Linked DNA regions of Homo sapiens: region 2 is linked to region 1. The links come from fine-mapping of genetic effects on gene expression. A gene starts in region 1. The other region holds a variant in brackets. All regions are shown on one strand. Distances are between the middles of the regions.

Region 1 (5,380 bases):
AGAGTCCAGAAATGGACTTGCACAAATGGGGACACTTTTTTTATGGACACAGTAGCATAGCAGACCAGTGAGGAAGGACTATCTCTTCAATAATTTGCTGGTGGGTCAACTGGATACTCCTTTGGAAAGAAAAAATTAAGCTGGATTCCTACCTCACACTGCACTCGAAAACCAATTTCAGGTGGAATACAGATCTCACTGAGAAAGGGTAAAACAACAAATCCTCTTAAATATTAATAGTTCTGCCCACAGATGGCCATGGAGCTCTTGAGATGTGTTATGAAGTGTAAAATCTGCACTGGATTTTAAACATTAGTAGGACAAAACAATGTAAAATATCTCAATAATTTTTATATTCAAACGTTGAATCATTGACAAATTGGATATACTGAGTTAAATATCACATTATTAAAATTAGTTTTATCTAATTCTTGCTCTCTTAATGCAGATACTAGAATGTTTTAAACTACATGAGTGGCTCAGCTCATACTTTTATTGAACAGCACTGCTCTAAAAAGTAACATAAAAGTAACCTCAGGTCATCAAATTAGAAAAAGATGTCTTAAATGAAAATTAAGAAGCAATAATCATAAAGGAAAAGACTAATATATTTGACTACGTTTAACTTTTGGTGTCCAGAAGACACCATTAAGAGACTAAAATGGCAAGCCACACAGAGGGAAAATACATTTGCAGCATGTACAGCCCTCAAAATAATATATTAAGAACTCCAACAAATTGATAAACAATCCAATTAAAAATTTTGTTCAACACTGTGTCCCAGACTAAACCCATTCTGCAATTCACATTGTGTCCTGAGCGAATGAATGGATGGATGAATGAATGAAGTACTGAGTGGGGAAGAGCACAGTCTTCAGACAGTATTTAGGTGCTTACTAAAAATAGGGGTGGCTTCTTTCTTTATGCTAGACCTACTTTTTATTTATTTTTTATTTTTTAGAAGGAGTCTCGCTCTGTCCCCCAGGCTGGAGTGCAGTGGCGCAATCTTGGCTCACTGCAACCTCCGCCTCCCGGGTTCAAGCGATTCTCCTGCCTCAGCCTCCCGAGTAGCTGGGATTACAGGCATATGCCATCACGCCTGGCTAATTTTGTATTTTTGGTAGAGATGGGGTTTCACCATGTTGGTCAAGCTGGTCTCGAACTCCTGACCTCAGGTGATCCACCTGCCTCAGCCTCCCAAAGTGCTGGGATTACAGGCGTGAGCCACCGTGCTCGGCGATTCTTTTAAAATAAACTACATTATTTAAGGTATCTAGCAGACTCAAATTCATAGAAACAAAAAGTGAAATGCCAGGGGCTGGAGAGAAGGGAAAAGGGAAACTTGTTGTTTAATGGGTGTGAAAAAGTTCTGGAGATTGGTTTCACATAGTTTGAATATACTTAATACTACTGTACTGTAATACTTAAAAATGGCTAAGATGGTAAAATTATATTACGTGCATTTTAAACACAAACATTAAAAATAAACTATAAAGTCAACAAGTTCCTTAATTAGGAAAGGTTTATTCTGTCAATATTATCACATTGGTAATCTTGGTCACACTGGCCAGAACGTTTTCTCAGAGAGGAAACCTCCGGTTTTTTTGTGAGGTTTTGATTCTGGGCATCTGCTTTAAGGTGGGAGAGGTTTCTGACTCCTTCCAAAAGCTTTTTTAGGAAATGATTGGCCAAGGTGAGGTCCAATCATCTGTCCCTTACCTCCTGGGTCTGCCCCTTGCCGGGAAGCCCTTTCCTGGCGGTATCCAGGGGACCTTCTAGTAACCAGCCGGGCCTGAGGAGCTGGGGCAAGTGAGTACAGTGCCAGAATAGGGCGGGGCGCGAAATAAGATCCCGACCGGCGGGCGCGGGGCGGGGCGATGCAGGCAGGGTAAGGGGCTGGCAGAGTGAGACCCGCCCCGACCGGGCAGCACTACCCGAGCGCTGTTGCCTGGAGACCACGGGACGCCGTTGCCTGGAGACAGCGGGGACGCGTTGCCTGGAGACTGTGGAAGGCCCAGGCAAGAGGGCGCGTGGCAGCCCAAGGCCATGGCGGGACACCCAAAAGAGAAGGTGATTCCAGATGAGGTCCATCAGAACCAGATCTTGCGGGAACTGTACCTCAAGGAGCTACGAACCCAGAAACTCTACACGCAGTATCACGTGAATCCCCTCCGCAAGAGTGAGAGGCACGGCGGGGTGGGGGAAGGGCGAGAGCGGGAGGGCGCCGGGGAAGGAGGAGCCCTCCGGGTTGCGGGGTGGGAACGCGGTCCCAGCAAAAACTCTTTCCCCAGCACCCGCCCCCTTTCCTAGATTTCAGGAACCATGACTTTGGAGAGGCCACATCATATCAGATGTATTCGCTGTATTAAAGTTCATGCGCAACACGATTAAATCTTTTCGTTGTAGAAAAAAAAAAGTTGTAGGGCTTTTTATTATTTTACTTTTGAAATAATTATATTTTGCAGGCTGTTTGTGTTTTGTTTTTGTTTGTATTTTGGGTTGTTTTTAACAAGTGAAAGGTTTTTCTTCAGGCTTCTGATATTGCCCTTCGGAAAGTTCTGGGGTGCCCCCTGATAAAACATCCCTACCCTCCACTCTTGTCACTGAGCACTCTCCTTGGGCAGTTTGTTCTGTCCTGTCACACCAGCTTCCCCTGAATGCCACTGGGCCTGAAATGGAGCTTCAGATCCACACGCCCAACCACCTCACAGCTCCCCTCCCTGGACAACCCACAGGCACCTCAGACCCAGCAGGAGGAAAGCCAGGCTCATTCCCACCTTCCCCACTCTCTGCTGCTCCAGAATACCCTGTCTCTGCAAAAGGCCCCGGATGATTCACTCTCATGATCAGAATCATTCACTCTCATCATCTAATGATCTCATGATCATTAGAAGCCTCGGAGTCCTCCTCAAGGTCTCTCTCCCTCCACACACTTAAAAAAAGGCACAAGTCCTGTTTATTAACATTCCTCTCCCCTGACCCACTTGTTCCTGCTTCAGTGAAAGACACCATCATGCATATGGATTCCTCTCTGCCTCTGCTCAGGTACTTTCATGCTCTAAGTAGCACCTCAAACAGCCTCTGCCTGCATCCTCACTCCTGAAGCCTCTGCAGGGCCCTAGTCCTTGCCGCCTGGATTGGTCTGATGGGCTCCCAACTCCTTATTCTCTTTCCCTCCAAGCTGGCCCCTCCGACCAAACCCCTACACCTTTGCTAGCTTAGCACTATGCTAGGAGGACAATTAGATCACATCAATCCCACCTAAAATCCTTCTCATAGCCTCTGAGGTAAAGTTTAAATCAATCACGACATAAGGCGCATTGGATCTGGCTCTGGTTCCTGCCAGCTTCATGCCATACTCCTCTCCCCCACTTTACCCTGCTCCTTTAAGAAATACTTTGGTGCCTACTCTGCACCAGCCATTGCTGACGAATCCCACACACACTCCTTTCCCCCCTGCCATTTCTAAATACATGGATTTCCTAAATGCATCATGTCATTTCCCACTTTACCTGCATAAACATTGTTGCTTCTTCCTGAATGCCTCTCCCAACTCTGTGCCTAATATGTAAAGTCCACTTTGTTGCCTGGCTCTATAGAGAAAATGTACTGTCTTCACTTTCCTTCTAACTAACTTGGTTTTCTTCTGGAGTCCCCAACCACTAGTTTCAGGAAAGCAAATTAGTGTCCAAAGCCGTTCAAACTCGGTCCATTCCAAATAATGGAAATAATCTCTTCAGGCAACCTTCATGCTCTCTAGGGAAAATGCTGCCTCCCAGCTCATGTCCCTTGAGCATGTGAGCCATTGGAATAAAGTGAGAAAATATTACAACTTGTATTGATTACTTTTATTTATAAAGATAGAAATTTTATTTGCTAATATACTGATAATAGTCCATAAAAACTATATAATTATACATATTTTAAGGGCGCATGCTCTAAAGTTCTTTTACTGATAGGAGTTTGAGACAAGCAGCTTGGAGACCACTGGTTTCTACTGGTGTCTGCTCATTTCCCACTACTCTCCATCCAGCTCACTCCACTGGAGCCACTCTGGCTCTCTTGACGTTTCTCAAACTCCCCAGGCTCACGCTCATATGCTTCCCACACACACAGCACATTCCCTCACTTCATTCAAAACTCTGCTCATATGTATCTCCCTAGAGATACATCACCCACACCCCAGCCCCAACGCCAACTCTCCATCCACGTAACCTGCTTTACTGTTCTCTATCACACTTACATTTGCCGGGTGATATATGTATGTTTATTGCCTGTCACCACAAATAGAGTAAAAGCTCAGGGGACACAAGAGCCAGCTCTGTCTTGTTTACAGCCTGTTCTTCAGTGCACAGTAATTATGAGCTGAGTGGATGAATGTGGGTGCTGCTCCTCTGTTACCATGTGCCCTCCTGGGCATAGATCACTGCCTGGCAAACCTCTTTGGCCTTCCCCATAGGCCAGCACTGTCCAAGAGAATTCATCAGTGATGAAAATGTTCTCTGTCTTGGCTGTAGTCAAAACTGTAGCCATTAACCGCCTGCAGCTATTGAGCACTTGAAGTGTGACTAACGTGGCTAAGGAACTGAAGTGTTCATTGTAATTAATTTTAGTTATTCAAATTCAAGGAGCCACATGTGGCTGATGACCACCATTCTGGGCAGTGCCACTCTAGATTGTGAGGTTCTTGAGGGCCTTATCCAATCGTGCATTATCCTAGCACCCAGGATAATACCTGGCATGTACCAGATACTCAGTGAGTGCCAAATGGGTGCCCTGTTTAAGGTGGACCTTAGAGAGGGCAGGGAACTCATGTTTTAATCTGAACTTGTGAAGCTGTTTTCTTTTTTTCTAGTTCATACAGTCACCAGGAAGCCCATGTCTTGGCATGATAACCTGGAGGAACCTGCAGATGGTAAGTCCTGGGCTTTGAAATGCCATTGAGATAGAGCCCAGAGAGGCAGGCTGGCTGGAGAGACCTCTCAGGGTCGTGATATCTTGGAGCAAGCATCAGAGTCCTCTGCTTTGATCCTGGAAATGGGACTCATACTAACCAAGCTCAAAAAAGACGGATACTCAGACAGTCTGTGGTAGATAGAATAAAAAAAATAAAAATTTTTTTAAATAAAATTTTTAAAAGATGGACATACTCAATTATAACTGTCAAGCCAACTAACGTTCCTATTGACTTAACATTGCCTTCGTTCATTCATCAAACATGTAGATGTTATAAGCACAAGTTCTGAAGCTGTACTAACTCAGTTCAAATCCTGGTTCTGCTACTCATTAACTGTAACATTGGGCAGGTTTTTTACCTCTTTTAGCCTATTTCTCAGGATTGATGTGAGGATTAAACAAAGCAATACCAGTGCATAGAACA
Region 2 (5,380 bases), 41 kb before region 1:
ATCTCTTGACCTCGTGATCTACCTGCCTCGGCCTCCCAAAGTGCTGGGATTACAGGCATAAGCCACTGCACCAGACCTCTGAATTACAATATTCACCTCTTTTGCTGCTGTGTCTGTCCCACAGACCCTGCCCGATGGATGAAATGAGTACTCAGACACAGGTATGCAGTGTAAGAGCAGCTAAGTGACTGCCTGGCTCTAGTGGCCAGAGAGCAGCCCTGAGAAGCTGGAACTGCTTGCTTTTATTCAGTGCAGGCACAGTGTGGAAAACCTGGAGCCCACACAACCTGTAGGTAATTAACATTTGTAGTTCCCCTTCCAGGGTGTGTTATGCACATGGATAATCAAAAATCAGTTCCTTGTCAACATTAGTAAACAAGCATGTTTAAGATAAATTCCCCCACACTCTCTAATGGTGTGAAGTAGTATCTCATGGTGTTTTTGATTTGCATTTTACTGGAGGCTAATGGTGTTGAGCATCTTTTCGTGTGCTTGCTGGACATCTGCATATCTTCTTTGGAACAATGTCTATTCAGATCTTTGCCTACTTTTTCATTTGTTTATTTGTCTCCTTATTGAGTTGTAAGTGTTCTTTGTATATTGTAGATATAAGTTTCTTATCAGATATATAATTTGCAAGTATTTTCTCCCATTCTATGGGTTTTTTGCTTTCTTGATGGTGTCCTTTGCAGCGTAAAAGTTTTAATTTTGATGAAATCCAATTTGTCTATTTTGTTTGTTTGTTTTTGCTTGTACTTTTGGGTCAGATTTAACAAATTATTGCCTAATCTGAGGCCATGAAGATTTACCCTTTATTTTCTTCTAAGAGCTTTATTTTATGTCATTTATATGTGTGTGTGTGTGTGTGTGTGTGTGTGTGTGTGTGTGTGTGTGTGTGTGTGTATATATATTTTTTTTTTTTTTTTTTTTTTTGAGACAGTTTCCCGCTGCCACCCAGGCTGGAATGCAGTGGCATGAACACAACTCATTGCAGCCTTGACTTCCAGGGCTCAAGCAATCTGCCCTCCTCAGGCCCCCAGCTAGCTGGGACTACAGGTGCATGCCACCACATCCAGCTACCTAAGAGCTTTCTATTTTTAGCTTTTACATTGAGATCTTTGATCCATTTTGAGGTAATTCTCATATATTATGTGAGGTGGGAGTCTGTATTAGTCAGTTCTCACATTGCTATGAAGAACTACCTGAGACTGGGTAATTTATAAAGAAAAGAGGTTTAATTGGCTCATGGTTCCATGGGCTGTACTGGAAGCATGGGTGGGGGAGGCCTCAAGAAACTTACAATCATGGCGGAAGGTGGAGTGGAAGGAGGAACATATTACATAGCCAGAACAGGAGGAAAAGAGCAAAGGTGGAAGTGCTAAGCATGTTTAAACAACCCGATCTCATGAGAACTCACTATCATGAGAACAGTAAGGGGGAAATCTGCCCCCATGATCCAATCACCTCCCAGTGTGTCCAGAATTGGTGGGTTCTTGGTCTCACTGACTTCAAGAATGAAGCCGTGGACACTCGCGGTGAGTGTTACAGTTCTTAAAGGCGGCGTGTCCAGAGTTTGTTCCTTTTGATGTGTGGATGTGTTTGGAGTTTCTTCCTTCTGGTGGGTTCGTGTTCTCGCTGGCTCAGGAGTGAAGCTGCAGGCCTTTGTGGTGAGTGTTACAGCTCTTAAGGCGGCGCGTCTGGAGTTGTTTTTTCCTCCCGGTGGGTTCGTAGTCTCAATGGCTTCAGGAGTGAAGCTGCAGACCTTCGCAGTGAGTGTTACAGCTCATAAAGGCAGTGTGGACCCAAAGAGTGAGCAGCAGCAAGATTTATATCAAAGAGTGAAAGAACAAAGTTTCCACAGTGTGGAAGGGGACTGGAGCTGGTTGCCACTGCTGGCTGGCACAGCCTGCTTTTATTCTCTTATCTGGCCCCACCCACATCCTGCTGATTGGTCCATTTTACAGAGAGCCAATTGGTATGTTTTACAGAGAGCTGATTGGTCCGTTTTGACAGGGTGCTGATTGGTGCGTTTACAATCCCTGAGCTAGACACAAAAGTTCTCCGTGTCCCCACTAGATTAGCTAGATACAGAGTGTCAAATGGTGTATTTACAAACCCTGAGCTAGACACAGAGTGCTGATTGGTGCATTTACAAACCTTGAGCTAGATACAGAGCGCCAATTGGTGCATTCACAATCCCTTAGCTAGACATAAAGTTTCTCCAAGTCCCCACCAGATTAACTAGATACAGAGTGCAGACTGGTGCATTCACAAACCCTGAGCTAGACACAGGGTGCTGATTGGTGTGTTTACAAACCTTGAGCCCTTGAGCTAGATACAGAGTGCTGATTGATGTATTTACAATCCCTTAGCTAGACATAAAGGTTCTCCAAGTTCCCACTAGACTCAGGATCCCAGCTGGCTTCACCCAGTGGATCTCGCACCAGGGCCGCAGGTGGAGCTGCCTGCTAGTCCCACGCGGTGCGCCCGCACTCCTCAGCCGTTGGGTGGTAGATGAGACCAGGTGCCATGGAGTGGGGGGCAGTGCTCGTCGGGGAGGCTTAGGCCACACAGGAGCCCACGGGGGAGGGAGGGGGGCAGAGGGGTGGTGAGGGGCGGGGGGCAGGGGGTGGTGGGGGGTAGGGGGGCGGTGGGAGGTGGTGGGGGGGCGGGGGGGTGGTGGGTGGTGGGGAATGGGGGGGTGTGGGGGTGGTGGGGGGCGGGGGCGTGGATGGGGGGTGGGAGACTCAGGCATGGCGGGCTGCAGGTCCCGAGCCCTGCCCTGTGGGGAGGCAGCTAAGGCCTGGTGAGAAATCCATCGCAGCGCTGTGGGCCAGCACTGCTGGGGGAGCCGGCGCACCATCGGCAGCTGCTTGCCCAGGTGCTAAGCCCCTCACTGCCTGGGCCAGCAGGGCCGGCCAGCCACTCTGAGTGTGAGGCCGCCAAGCCCACGCCCACCCGGAACTCCAGCTGGCCCGCAAGTGCTGCGCGCAGCCCCAGTTCCTGCCCGTGTCTCTCCCTCCACACCTCCCTGCAAGCCGAGGGTGCCGGCTCTGGCCTTGGCCAGCCCAGAGAAGGGCTCCCACGGTGCAGC[A/G]GTGGGCTGAAGGGCTCCTCAAGCATGGCCAGAATGGGCACTGAGGCCGAGGAGGCACCGAGAGTGAGCTTTGGGGCTGCAAGGGCTGCCAGCACGCTGTCACCTCCCACCAGCAGGCCCCTCCTCCAGTACTGGGAATTACAATTTGACATGAGAGTTCAGCAGGGACACAAATCCAAAGCATATCATTCTGCCTGCGGCCTCTACTAAATCACATGTCCTTCTCACACCGCAGAATCCAATCATCCCTTCTCAACAGTCCCCCACATTTTAACTCATTTCAGCATTAACTCAAAAGTCCACAGTCCAAAGTCTCATCTGAGACAAGGTAAATCCCTTCCACTGATGAGCCTGTAAAGTCAAAAACAAGTTAGTTGCTTCCAAGATACAACAGGGGTACAGGTATTGCATAAATAAACCTGTTTAAAAAGGGAGAAATCAGACAAAACAAAGGGTCTACAGGCCCCATGCGAGTCCAAAACCCAGAAGGGCACTCATCACATCTTAAACCTGCCAAATAATCTCCTCTGACTTGATGTCACACATCCAGGCCACAATGATACAAAGGGTGTGCTCCCAAGGCCTTGGGAAGCTCTGCCCCTGTGGCTCTGCAGGATACAGCCCCCCTCAGCTGTTTTTACAGGCTGGCATTGAGTGCCTGCAGCTTTTCCAGGTGCACAGTGCAAGGTGTCACTGGATCTACCATTCTGGGATCTGGAGGATGGTGGTCCTTTTCTCACGGGGCAGTGCCCTAGTGGGGACTGTGTGGGGGCTCCAATCCCACATTTCTTCTCTGCACTGCCCTAGTAGAGGCTCTCCATGAGCACACCACCCCTGCAGCAGACTTCTGCCTGGACCTCCAGGCATTTCTATACATCCTCTGAAATCTAGGTGAAAGCTCCCAAGCCTCAACTCTTGCCCTCTGTGCACCCACAAATTTCTTACCATGTGGTAGCTGTCAAGGCTTGTGCCTTGCACCTTCTGGAGCAGTGGCCTGAGACATATCTGGGACCCTTTTAGCTATGGCTGGAGCTGGAGCAGATGAGACATAGGGAGCAGCATCCTGAGGTTGCACAGGGTAGTGGGGCTCTGGGTCCAGCCCATAAAACCATTCTTCCCTCCCAGGCCTCTGGGCCTGTGATGGGAGGAGCTGCTGCAAAGGTCTCTGAAATGTCTTTATGGCATTTTCCCCATTGTCTTGGCTATTAACATTTGGCTCCTCTTTACTTATGCAAATTTCTGCAGCCTGGCTTTAATTCCTCCCTAGAAAATGGGTGATATGGTTTGGCTGTGTCCTCACCCAAATCTCATCGTGAATTGTAGCTTCCATAATTCCCTCATGTTGTGGGAGGGACCCAGTGGGAGATAATTGAATCATGGTGGCAGTTTCACCCACAGTGTTCTCGTGGTAGTGAACAGGTCTCATGAGATCTGATGGTTTTATAAGGGGAAACCCCTTTCACTTGGCTCTCATTCTCTTCTCTTGTCTGCTGCCATGTGAGATGTGCCTTTTGCCATCTGCCATGATTGTGAGACCTCCCCAGCCATGTGGAACTGAGTCAATTAAACCTCTTTCTTTTGTAAATTGTCCAGTCTTGGGTATGTCTTTATCAGCAGCATGAAAAAGAACTAATACAATGGATTTTTCTTTTCTACCACATGGTCAGGCTGCAAATTTTCTAAACTTTTATGCTCTGCTTCTTTTTCAAATATAAGTTCCAGTTTTAGATCATCTCTTTGCTCACAAATATGGGCATAGGTTGCTAGAAGCAGCCAGGCCACATCTTGAACACTTTGCTGCTTAGACATTTCTTCTGCCAGATACCCTAAATCATCACTCTCAAGTTCAAAGTTACACAGATCCCTAGAGCAGGGGCACAATGCTGCCAGTCTCTGCTAAAACATAACAAGAATGACCTTTACTCCAGTTCCTAATAAGCTCCTCATCTCTAGTTGAGACCACCTCAGTCTGGACTTCATTGTCCATATCGCTATCAGCATTTTGGTCACAACAATTTAACAAGTCTCTCTGAAGTTCCAAACTTTTCCTCATCTTCCAGACTTCTTCTAAGTCCTCCAAAGTGTTCCAACTTCTGCCCGTTTTCCAGTTCCAAAGCCACTTCCACATTTTCAGGTATCTTTATAGCAATGTCCCACTCCTGGCACCAATTTCTGTATTAGTCAGTTATTGAATTGCTATGAGGAACTGCCCAAGACTGGGTAATTTATAAAGAAAAGAGGTTTAATTGGTTCATGGTTCTGCAGGCTATATAGGAAGCATGGGTG

Which allele goes with the higher level. Alleles are on the strand shown, and positions count from the first base shown. SD is a standard deviation of normalised expression in the study named.
For the expression in iPS cells of the gene that starts at base 1,999 in region 1, allele G in region 2 goes with a higher level than allele A (large effect, 0.87 SD a copy in iPSCORE).

What was found. PIP is the estimated chance that this variant, and not a neighbour inherited with it, causes the effect. A credible set is the group of variants that fine-mapping cannot tell apart.
Region 2: its variant is the best candidate, but not a certain one, in a credible set for the expression of CFAP144 in iPS cells (iPSCORE, PIP 0.74).

Annotation. Positions count from the first base shown.
Region 1 is chr1:43,145,906-43,151,285 of GRCh38, forward strand. It overlaps CFAP144 (cilia and flagella associated protein 144), which reads left to right and starts at 1,999. Exons shown (of 4, transcript NM_001101376.3): 1 at 1,999-2,179; 2 at 4,856-4,915. The coding sequence starts at 2,047.
Region 2 is chr1:43,104,874-43,110,253 of GRCh38, forward strand. No RefSeq gene overlaps it. Among named protein-coding and RNA genes, the nearest start is that of CFAP144, 40 kb to the right of the region's middle. The variant A/G (reference allele first, on the strand shown) is at 3,095.